Linked DNA regions of Homo sapiens: region 2 is linked to region 1. The links come from fine-mapping of genetic effects on plasma protein levels. Region 1 holds a variant in brackets. A gene starts in the other region. All regions are shown on their reverse strands.

Region 1 (5,379 bases):
GCTTTTCCACTGCCCTTTTCTGGCGCACTCCTACTCATACTTCAAGACCCTGGCAAGGAAATGATATGAGGAAAGTGGGGCATGCAGGGACTGGGTGAACAGGAAAGTACCTACTATGTGCCACTAAGAAAGGGCCTCCCGCAACCCCACTCCCAGGCCTCCTGTGTCCAGTAGGAATGTGGGCCCAGTATGGCCACATCTTCCCATTTTTCAAGAGAAGCCAGAGAAAAGGACTTTATGTGAAATCTCCTGGCATGTCAGATGTTGGCAATTGATTCACATTAAAAAAAAATACTTTAAGGACCAAACTAAACATATCTCCAGAGTGGACCTGTCCCATGGGCAGCTGTCATGGAGGTCTGCTCTAGGAGGCTTGATGGGTACGAACACCTTTGAGGATAACGAAGCTGAAGCAGTTCTTCCTGGCGTCTCACTTGCGTGCCCTCTGTTGTAGCCATTGTGGGAGGGGTTCTCATACAGCTGGGGCAGCTCTGATGGGGGACAGAAGGGCAGAGGTAGCGCCCCCAGCTCTGAGCCGCACCCACAGGCAACACCCAGCCCACCCCAGACCAGCTCCTTGCCCAGCTCAGCCCAGAGTCCAGGGTGGATGGAGTGTGGGGAGGACTCATCATGGGGGCTGTGAGAAGCCTGTTTATGGCTCCAAAATTCCTATGCCCCAGGCCTAGGGGAAATTAGTGCTCGTATGAGGCTGTTCACCTCCAAACTCCTTGGCCTCTCCAAGAAATTAAAAACAGGGAAACCGAGGCAGGACTGAGCTTCATGGAGACCTGGGCCTGCAGGCCTGGGCAGGCTTGGAGGCAGCCAGGAGGCTGACTTCTCTGGAAAGTCCCTTGTATTCGAGAACTGGCGGGGTGCCGGGGAGCGAGGACACCAGGGGTCTCCTAGTCTCAGAGCCTTCTGCCGGATCCAGGAGCTCCTCAAGCGTCTGCCCTTTCTGGGACAGAACTTTCCAGCAACAGAAAGTTGAGGAAGCCCCTCTCTGGAAACCCTGAGCCTCCTTGATGGGGCTTGCATTCTGCTTTGGGGCAGAATGTGGGACTGTGGGACAGGAGGACGGGGCGTGAACCCCAGTCCTAAGCCCAGATGTCGGCTGGAGATCCTCAAAGCCAGGGCCTCTTCTCAAGAGTCTGATGGCCCCACCAGCCATTTCTCTCACCCAGACCCCAAGTCAGACTGGACACTGTCACCATTGTCCTGGAGGCCAAGAGACCCGCAGACCAGAATTCAAAGCCTTGCCCCGCTGCGGGCTGAGACAGTCGCTTGGGCTCTGTGGTCTCATTCCTGCATCTGTAAAATGCATCCTTCCATTGTAGGAATTCAACAAGCACATGACATGGGGCTGGTGCTGGGCAGAGGAGAGAAGAAGTGACAGTGAGCACGCACCCTGGGCTGGTGCTGAACCCGCCACACACGTCCTTCTTCCCTTCTCACCACAAAACCCTGCATCTGTTCATTCAATGCTGGATGAGTGCCCCCTATGTGCCAGGCTCTGAGATTTAATGGAGGACAGTGGAGAACTGGCCTCTGCCTGCTGGGAGCTTACAGTCTGGCCAATGGGGAGTTATGAACCCCCTAAATTATTGTGTCAAGTAGTGGTCAGTGTTATGGGAAAACATTCACGCAGGGTGAAGAGGTAAGGCCAGGGGAGCAATTTGGAAGGGCCGGGGGTCAGAGCAGGACCCCCGGGGTCATTTAAGCAGACACCCAGATCAGGAGAGGGAAGAAGCCCTGTGGCTATCTGGAGGAAGGATGCTGAAGGCAGCGGAAACAGTGTGTGCAAAAGCCCCGAGGTAGGCGTGTGCTTAGCATGTTGGAGGAACAAAGAGGAGCCCAGTGTGGCAGGGGTAGAGGGAACCAGAGAGAGTGAGTAAGAGGAGATGGGCCAGGCGCGGTGACTCACACCTGTAATCCCAAGCACTTTGGAAGGCCAAGGTGGGCAGATCACTTGAGCTCAGGAGTTCGAGACCAGCCTGGGCAACATGGCAAAACCCCATCTCTACTACAAAAAATACAAAAATTAGCTGGCCGTGGAGGCATGTGTCTGTAGTCCTACCTATCTGGGAGGCTGAGGTGAGAGGATGACTTGAGCCCAGGAGGTTGAGGCTGTAGTGAGATGTGTTGGCACCACTGCACTCCAGCCTGGGTGACAAAGTGAGACCCTGTCTTAAAAAAAAAAAAAAAAAAAGAGACAGAGAGAGAGAGATGAGGTTATAAGGGAAGCATGGGAAAGATCTTGTAGGGCCTGGTAGGCCACAGAGATCTTTGACTTTCTGCCAAGTGAGGTGGGAGCCGTGGGAGGGTTTTGAGCACAGGAAGGTCATGTCCTGACCTCCTATACTCATCCTCATCTTAAAGGTGAGGAAACTGAGTCTCAGAGAGGTGAAGTTACCCACCCAAGGTCACACAGCCAGCAAGTGGCAGAGCTGGAGTTTGCCCCCACATCCCTGTGGCTCCCAAAGCCAGCCTCTTCCCATCCCATCAGCTGCCTCTGTGTCTGGCGTGAGTCAGGAGGCTGGATTGCTGGGAGGGGGAGAGCTTTTTAGAGCTGCTTTTTGGAGCCTCCTGGCTCTGCCTGGCACATCCCCTCCTTCCCCACCCATGCCTTCTCCCTTGCCCTCAGCCACCCCCAGCTGCCTGCGGTGAGTGCCTAACATTTAAGGCTATCCCCTCCCAAGTGCAGATTGGATTTTTTTCTTTCCATAAGTCCCCATTATGCCCCAGTAGACTGGATTTTGGGCAATAGAAAAAACGAGCCTAAAGAACTCCAGCGCTAATTGGGGGTGACAGGCAGGGGCTCGGGGCCTCTGGAGCAGCCTGGCTCTGTCTCTAATTTGCAGAGTGGCCAGGGTAAGTCCCTGGCTTCCAAAGTCATGCTTGTTTGAAGGACAATCACTTTCTTTTTCTTGTAAAAGGAAGATAAATTGTCAGCCTGTCGGTTTCATTATGAGCTCGTCCGCTGTCTTTCCAGTAACTGAGGGCGAGAGGCTGAGCCGCTGCCCAGAGGCTGCCTGTGAGGCCTTGGGGGCTGTGGTTGATGCCACCTGGCC[T/C]CCTTCGCATCACCTCCCTCTCAACACCCCTCCCACCCCCTCCAATAATTGTGGTATTTGGTTTTCCCTCAACACCAAATGTGAAACTCTCCTGGAGGGAGTGCAAAAGGAAGTCTGTGAATCTCTGAACTGTGGTTGAATGAAGGTATTCTTAGGCGCCTGCTTGCAAGGATGGTGAACTTCTGGTGCTAAAAGCAGAATTGCTTTTCAGTAAATGTTATTACTCAAAAGGAAGTTGTTACCACCACAGCCACCTCGAGCCTCTTCCAACTGCCACTCTGTCTGCCAGGCCAAGTGGGGAAAGGGTCTCTCAGTGGCTCCCAATGACCCCATCCAGCCCCCAGGGGAAGGTCTTGCTATCTCAGCTGACCCTGGAGGCCTGAAGCTGAAGTGCAAACAACCACAGTCTGCCTAGGCAGAGTATCTCAAGGTAGGGGCTGTTTGCTGACTCAGCATTTAAAAGTCCCAAAGCTTGAGTGATCTTGGCTGAGCTGGGCTGGAGCTACAGGTGGGGTTGGGGGCACACAAGAAAGCTGCCCGTTGGCTGCAAGGTTGGCTGTTTTTTGAGAGCTGTTGTCCATCTTGGCAATGCACCTTGCCTAACCCCTATTTCCTCTTCTCTAAAATGGAAAGGTGATCATACCTCAATGGAAAGAGCTAGCATATTGATTACTCTAGTAGATACTTAATAAGTGGTGAGGTTATTATCAACAGTGAAAATGATTCTGGATTTAAATCAGACAGACCAGGGCTCAGATCTCAGCTCTGCCACCTACTAGTTGCACAACCTTGGACAAGTCCATTCCCCTCACCAAGTCTCGGTTTTCTCTGGATCACGCAGGAGTGATTATAGCACCTACTGCTCAAAGTTGTTGGGAGAATTCCGTGAGCTGCAGCACGTAAGTCACAAGGCACACAATAGGTATGCAGTAGGCATGGGTTCCACTCCTGCTCCATTTTGCCTTACAGAGGATCACCCCCCAGGCTGTGTCCCCACCTGAGCAGTCCCAACCACAGGCTCCAGGTGGAGAGACACCCATGAAAGTTTGCACCCACCGGGGTCCAGAGGGCAGACAAGAAGCGACCAGGCCAAACTCAGGGGAGTGGAATGGACCACTCAGCAGACACTTCCCTGCAAGAAAGAAGTCAAAACAAACCCCCTGGCTGGTGAGACATGATCCCAATCTAGAGCTCTCAGAGGATGCTCTCGGGTCCAATCCTCTGCCTGCCTCTACCTGTAGCCTTTTCTACAGCCCGGAAAAGTGGCAATTTCATTTACTGGGCAGCCACTGCAAGTGAGCATTGTGCTCTGCATGTCTCATGAATCACGTCATCGTGTCCCCCCAGCAACCCCACGAGACAGTTCCTCTCATTGCTCAGCACCTGCAGGTGTGGAAACTGAGGCCCAAGGAGGTGAAGGGACTGGTAGCTGAGATTTGAACCCAGCCCATCCCATTGTCAAGTCACACACATAATCACCGCACTACTTCCGTTATCTGAGAACAGTGTGTCTGTGTTACCAAAGATATAATTATATTTAGTAGTGTCTGGGTATAGAAAATTGTATAATATATTCTTTTTAAAATGTATTCTTTTGAGATTATTATAGATTTACATGCAGTTGTAAGAAATAAACAGAGAGAGTCCATATACCCTTTCCAGTTTCCCCCAATGTTAACAGTCACAATAAAGATATTGACAGTGATATAGTCAAGATACAGACATTTCTATCACCACGAGGATCCCTCATTGCCCTTGTATAACCAAACCCATCTCCCACCCCCAACCCTGCCCCCGAGCCATGGCAACCACTAATCTGTTCTCCATTTCTATAATTGTGTGGTTTCAAGAATGTTACATAAATGGAATCATATAGTTTATGTAACCTTTGAGGACTGGTTTTTTTCACTCAGCATAATTCTCTGAAGATTTATTCAAATTGTGTGTTATCAATATTTTATTCCTTTGTATTGCAAGTAGCAGTCCATAGTATGGATATAACACAGCTTTTTTTAGTTAAAAAAAACCATAGACAGGCTTCCGGGTGGTTTACCAGTTTTTGCCTATTATGAAGAGAGCTGCTATGAAGATTTGAGCATAAGTTTTTGCACAAACATAAGTTTTCATTTTTATGTCCAGGATTGCAACTGCCAAGTCATAAGGCAGTTTTTAAAAAACTGTTTTCCAGAATACGGTACCGTTTTACATTCCCATCAGGAATGTATGAGTGTTCTAGTGTCTCCATTCCTCACCAGTGATTGAATGCGAAAGTTCCCATCGTTTTTTATTTTGGTCATTCTGATAGGTGTGT
Region 2 (5,379 bases), not on the chromosome of region 1:
TTCCTACAATCCCTCACCTAGGTCTGCTATCCTCAAAATTTCCTCTCCCCTAACCTCTAGGCTCAAGAACCACCTACCTACACTTCCAACCTCCAGTCTTACCCCAGTAGAGGATGATGTCCTGGCCTCCTAGACTGCTGTGTCTCACTCGACAAGACAGGCCAGCAGGCTCCTCAGATGCCACCTCCAGGATCACCTGAAGATACCATGTCCCATCAGCATTAGGAAGAATATCACCATGTTTAGTGCCCAGTTGCTCCTGTTCATTCCGCATCCATGTCACCCAAACAGGCTTTGGGTAGAAGCCGGAGGCATGACAAACCAGCAACAGCTGGCCAGACCCAAGGCTGGGGCGACTGGACAGCCAGGCTTCTGGCCTCACTGCAGAGAGCAGAAAAAGTGTTCTGATGAAGAAACTTACACACAACTTACATCCACATACACACATCCACATGAATATGCACAGTTATCTTTTTCCTGCCTCTAAGAAACTATTACCCAGCAACCCCCCTGCTTCTTGTCCTCTTTCTTGTCCTGAGTTTGAAGGGTGGGAACAGAAGGGGCAGTACTTGAATAGAAAAATCTTAGAGGAAGGGGCTGAAACTACTGACCTTGCCTGTGTACATACATCTTCCCTGCATCCAGGAGACCCAAGAGAAATCGGGGGCAAGTGCTTCTTATGAGATTATACACTGTTTCTGTGACGCCTTCATACTGATGATTGAGTAGATGACAGACACTTTGGGCCAAACTTCCACAGCCTGGAGATGGCACCCATGTTGTATTCTGGAAACTCAGTAAATCTAATCCGTTGAAAGCTACCTGAAAGAAGCCTTCTGGGCTCTTTCCAGAATGCAGCTCACAGCCCGCTTTCACCTGTACTTCAAAGGGATCTGGAGGAAGGGAGGAATGAGAAAAAGAGTTCAAACAAAAAAGTGAAAACAACAGTATAAAAACCTAGGGCTGTATCAGGAAGTGAAGCAAGAAAGTTTTACATGGATGTGAGAGTGAGCCAAAGACATATTTGATCAGAAACAAGAGAGAAAAATTGCTGGGGATAGGGAAGGGGACAATAAGAGATAAATGCCTTGAATTAACAAGAAAAAGTGGCCAAGGAAGATGTGGAAAAATGATAGGTGAGCCACATAATATAGGATAGAGGGTGAAGGGGGAGCCTTTGTGAGGGAGGTAGGAGGATAGCATTCCATGACGCATGAAATTGGTCATAATGGTCATTGAACTGTGGACATAGATCTTTGAAGAAATTGAATGGGGGAATAGATTTTATTTTAAGGGAGTCAAGCACAGAGTGGGACAGCTGTGTATCTCTGGATTGTAGGATACAGAGGGAGACCACAGGTGGAAGATAACAAAGCACAAGAAAAAAAATTCCAAAAATAGCAAGAGCCTAGGAAATTTGAGGGAGTCAACATCAGGAATATCCCTTAAAAGGTTCATCTATGCAGAATTTTATGGTGGGATGGGATAATGGGAAATGGCCCAAAAATTAGTAGAGAATATTTCCCTGAAATAGAACATTCTAAAGAACTCCCATAATTTAGATGATTGAACTTACATTTCGAGTAATCTTGACTTGCATGGTCTTGAATCTCCCGAGTTAATCCAAAGAGGTAGAAACGAAATAACAACTCTAGGTCTGACAACTCTTCATTGCTGAAGTTGCCCTTGGACCAGTTATGCAGGAAAATTATTGTGCCTGATTCACTGTCCCAGCCATGAGTCTGCAACTCGTCCAGCCATCCTGAGCCCTGACCTCGTGCCCAGGATTGGTTGACAAATGAGAAGATCTGGATGACATGGAAGGAGACGTGTTCCTGGGATGCTTTTGGTGGAAGAAGGGCAAGTAGTGTAAGGAAAAAAAAAAAAAGAGAGGCAAGGAAAATGGAGAGAAAATGGAAGGTGAACCAGTTACCACAGAGAAACATTAATGACTACTTTAGCTATACCATTTTCCTTACACAGAGCCCCATGCTCTGCCACCATCCTCTAAAAGAGTAAACTGGACCTGGAGAGAGGTATGCTCAAATGGCAACCATTCTGGCTTCTTCATTGATCCATCTTGGGAAAGCCCATCATGCTCAACCCAGATACATGTAACCTTGCAGCTGACAGAGATGTTCATACTATCTGCATTGTCACCACCGGGGAGGAGAAGAACTAGCAGCGGAAACTACAGAAACAGCATGTCATTTGCAGTTGTTTCCTTCTCTCAGAAAAGCCATTTGCTGATCTCTGTTCTTAGCAAACTTATCCCTCTACATCTATATTCTGACTTCCTTCTACCAACAGACAATCTTCCCCATCAGCCACTGACAGCAACTAAGACAATCTGCTTCCCTTAACCTTAGGCCTCCTACTCAATCTCTCATTTCCCCATCTGCTCTGAACTAAAGTTACTCTCTTCCCTTAGGATTTTAGCTGCTCTCCCACTAAGCTCCATCTTATCTACTTCCCTTCCTCAACTGCCTTAGACAAAGTGGTGCGTGGCATTGAAAGGTTGCTTCATCCCTCTGGACCTTGCGTGTCATTTGTAACATAAAAAGGAGAAACCACATCATTTTCCTGGGCCCTGATTGTTTTAACGGAAAATGGAGAGGAAATGGAAATTGAACCAGTTACCACAGAGAAACATTAATGACTACTTTAGCTATAACATTTTCCTTACACAGAGCCCATGCTCTGCCACCATCCTCCAAAAGAGTAAACTGGACCTGGAGACAGGTATGCTCAGATGGCAAGCATTCTGGCATCTCTATTGATCCATCTCGGGAAAGCCCAGCACACTCTACCCAGATACATGTAACCTTGCAGCTGACAGCGATGTTCTTACCGTCTGCATTGTCACCACCTGGGAGAAGAAGAGCTAGCAGCAGAAACTGCAGAAACAGCATGTCATTTGCAGATGTTTCTTTCTCTCAGAAAAGCTGTTTGCTGATCTCTGTTCTTAGCAAACTTATCCCTCTGTACCTATATTCTGACTTCCTTCTACCAACAATCTTCCCCATCAGCCGCTGACAGCAACTAAGAAGATCTGCTTCCCTCAACCTTGGTCCTCCTACTCAATCTCTCATTTCCCCACCTGCTCTGAACTAAAGTTATTCTCTTCTCTCAGGATTCCAGCTGCTCTGCCACTAAGCTCCATTATATCTACTTCCCTTCCTCAACTGCCTTAGACAAAGTGGTGTATGGCATTGAAAGAAAGGTCATTTTGTCCCTCTGGATTTTGCATGTCATTTGTAAGATAAAAAGGAGAAACCATGTCATTTTTTCAGTTCCTGCTTGTTTTAATAGATCACAGTTCTTCCAGTTTCTCCACTTAACTTTGCCTCCACTCTCCATAGTGTCCCCTCTTCTCATCACTCCATTCTTTCTTTCCCCCTTTTGAATGTCCTCAAAGTTTTCTCTTTCCAATTTCACCTCTTTTCACCCATCTTTCTTATTTCCTCATTCTCACTGATTCTTTTATAAATTGGAGACGTTGCTTTTTACATCTTCCAAGATTTCCCTGCACAATTATATAAACTACAGTCCACTCTACATTATCCTTAGAGATTAAATTGCAGCCATTCAGAATGCATAGGACCATAACAAATATAAAGAAGCCCTTCTACTGCATTTAATCTGTATAGTCATTCACTAAAAAATTACATAGTACATGGTTGATACCAGTGTCTTACTAGGCATATAAACACACAGAGGTTAACAATGTAATCTCTTCTATCAAAGAGTTTTAAACTGCAGATGTTTAAACAAAAAATTAAAATGCATTGTGATTTTAATTTCAATGTATAGAATCCCAGATACAAATCTACTTAGAACTATATTCTCTAGAGCAGCATTTTGACTGACTAACCCCCTGGGAAGTTCATAATTTGAAGTCCTGGAAGAACAGCATGCATCTCAACTAAATACTGAAAATTCTGTACAGTGTGGAATGGTATACGATTGTGATAGTCAGAACATGCAGCTTTTCAAGAGGACTCATACATGGGGAGACCACAAAAATCCAAATTTAAGTTGTTTTGTGATCTGACCAAAACACATTGTATAAAAAGGGCAGCATTTGTCAATGTTTGATTTAAGTAGTTTATATGAAGTATTCAGTGACTTATCAGTGACCCTGGCTGGTTAATATGTGTAAATACATGAACACAGTTTTTTTGAGATCCAGGAAATACATTTATTATTATAGTGTTTCTTAAATCATATTAATTATTCACTGAATGCATTGGAGCAGTCACTTAAAATCTGGGCATGAATTTGTGCTAGGCACAATGACTCATGCCTGTAATCCCAGCACTTTGGGAGACCAAGGTGGGAAGATCACTTGAGCCCAGGAGTTTGAGACCAGCCTGGGCAACAAAGTTAGACCTCATCTCGATAAAAAAATTAAAAAGTTGGCCAAATGTGGTGGCACATGCCTGTAGTCCCAGCTAAATGGGAGGCAGAGGCAGGAAGATCTTTTGAGCCCTGAAAGTCAGGGCTGTAGTGAGCCATGTTCATGTCACTGTACTCCAGCCTGGGTAACAGAGCAAGACCGTGCCTTAAAAAGGAAAATCCCATTTGTAACATTGTTTCTGTTTTAAATTTATATTTATTCTATGTATTTACTGTGTACAACATGATACTTTGATATATACACTATTTCTTAGGTTTGTCAACGTTAATAGTGAGGCCAGAAGTCATTCTCAATGAGCTCTTCCTATCATGGCCACAGATATGTGGCAATTTCTATGAACTATAATATCTTTAAGAGCAATACCCAGTTCAAATCCTACCCAAATCATTCATAAGCACTAGGTGTTATCTTTGCTCATCTTGTGCTGTTAATGGCAAATACTTGGTTTGTGGTTTTAGAAAACAATAGTAGATACCACATTATGTGTTTATTCACATTTTTTTCCATGTTCCTACAGGAAAGATGCAACTGTCCTATTTCCTAATAGTTGGGTTAAGGTCATGGACTGAGTTCTGGGCAATGGAATGTGTGGTGTTGGAAGCATTAGCCAGCTCCAGTCCTGACCACTGAAAATATCACATCTGATCATCTTACCCTGTGGTACCAACTTGGCAGTCAAATTTCTAAATGGCAAGACTATGAGATGGAGAAGAGCAGCCTGATCTACATGCAGTTTAACTGCATGAGAAATAAACTTCATTGTGTTAAGCCTCCAAGTTCTAAAGTTTATTTATAACTGCAACATAACCTAGCTATATTGGATAATATTATAAAACCCAGTAAGTATCATCCTTTTTGCCCTCTTGAATTCAGAAGCAAACAAGTTGAAAATAACATGAGATAGATGGATCTAATGGTCAATCTTGACTTCTGATAGTGCCACTAGATAATTTGCTTTA

Which allele goes with the higher level. Positions count from the first base shown, and alleles are read on the strand shown. Strength reflects both the effect of a copy and how common the allele is.
With allele C in place of T in region 1, the plasma level of the protein whose gene starts at base 3,054 in region 2 is higher (weak association).

The links. A credible set is the group of variants that fine-mapping cannot tell apart. PIP is the posterior inclusion probability: the model's chance that the variant is causal. Protein levels are from antibody-based Olink assays in UK Biobank. Linkage for the fine-mapping came from a reference panel and not from the study's own genotypes, which makes the PIPs less certain.
Region 2: it holds the start of CD1C, and the variant in region 1 is the best candidate, but not a certain one, in a credible set for the plasma level of the CD1C protein (UK Biobank, PIP 0.81).

Annotation. Positions count from the first base shown.
Region 1 is chr20:50,336,748-50,342,126 of GRCh38, reverse strand. No RefSeq gene overlaps it. Among named protein-coding and RNA genes, the nearest start is that of LINC01271, 18 kb to the right of the region's middle. RefSeq lists an enhancer at 2,814-3,013. The variant T/C (reference allele first, on the strand shown) is at 3,069.
Region 2 is chr1:158,287,598-158,292,976 of GRCh38, reverse strand. It overlaps CD1C (CD1c molecule), which reads right to left and starts at 3,054. Exons shown (of 6, transcript NM_001765.3): 1 at 2,852-3,054; 2 at 1,577-1,843; 3 at 612-893; 4 at 103-381. The coding sequence starts at 2,912. It also overlaps a transcript of CD1B not described here.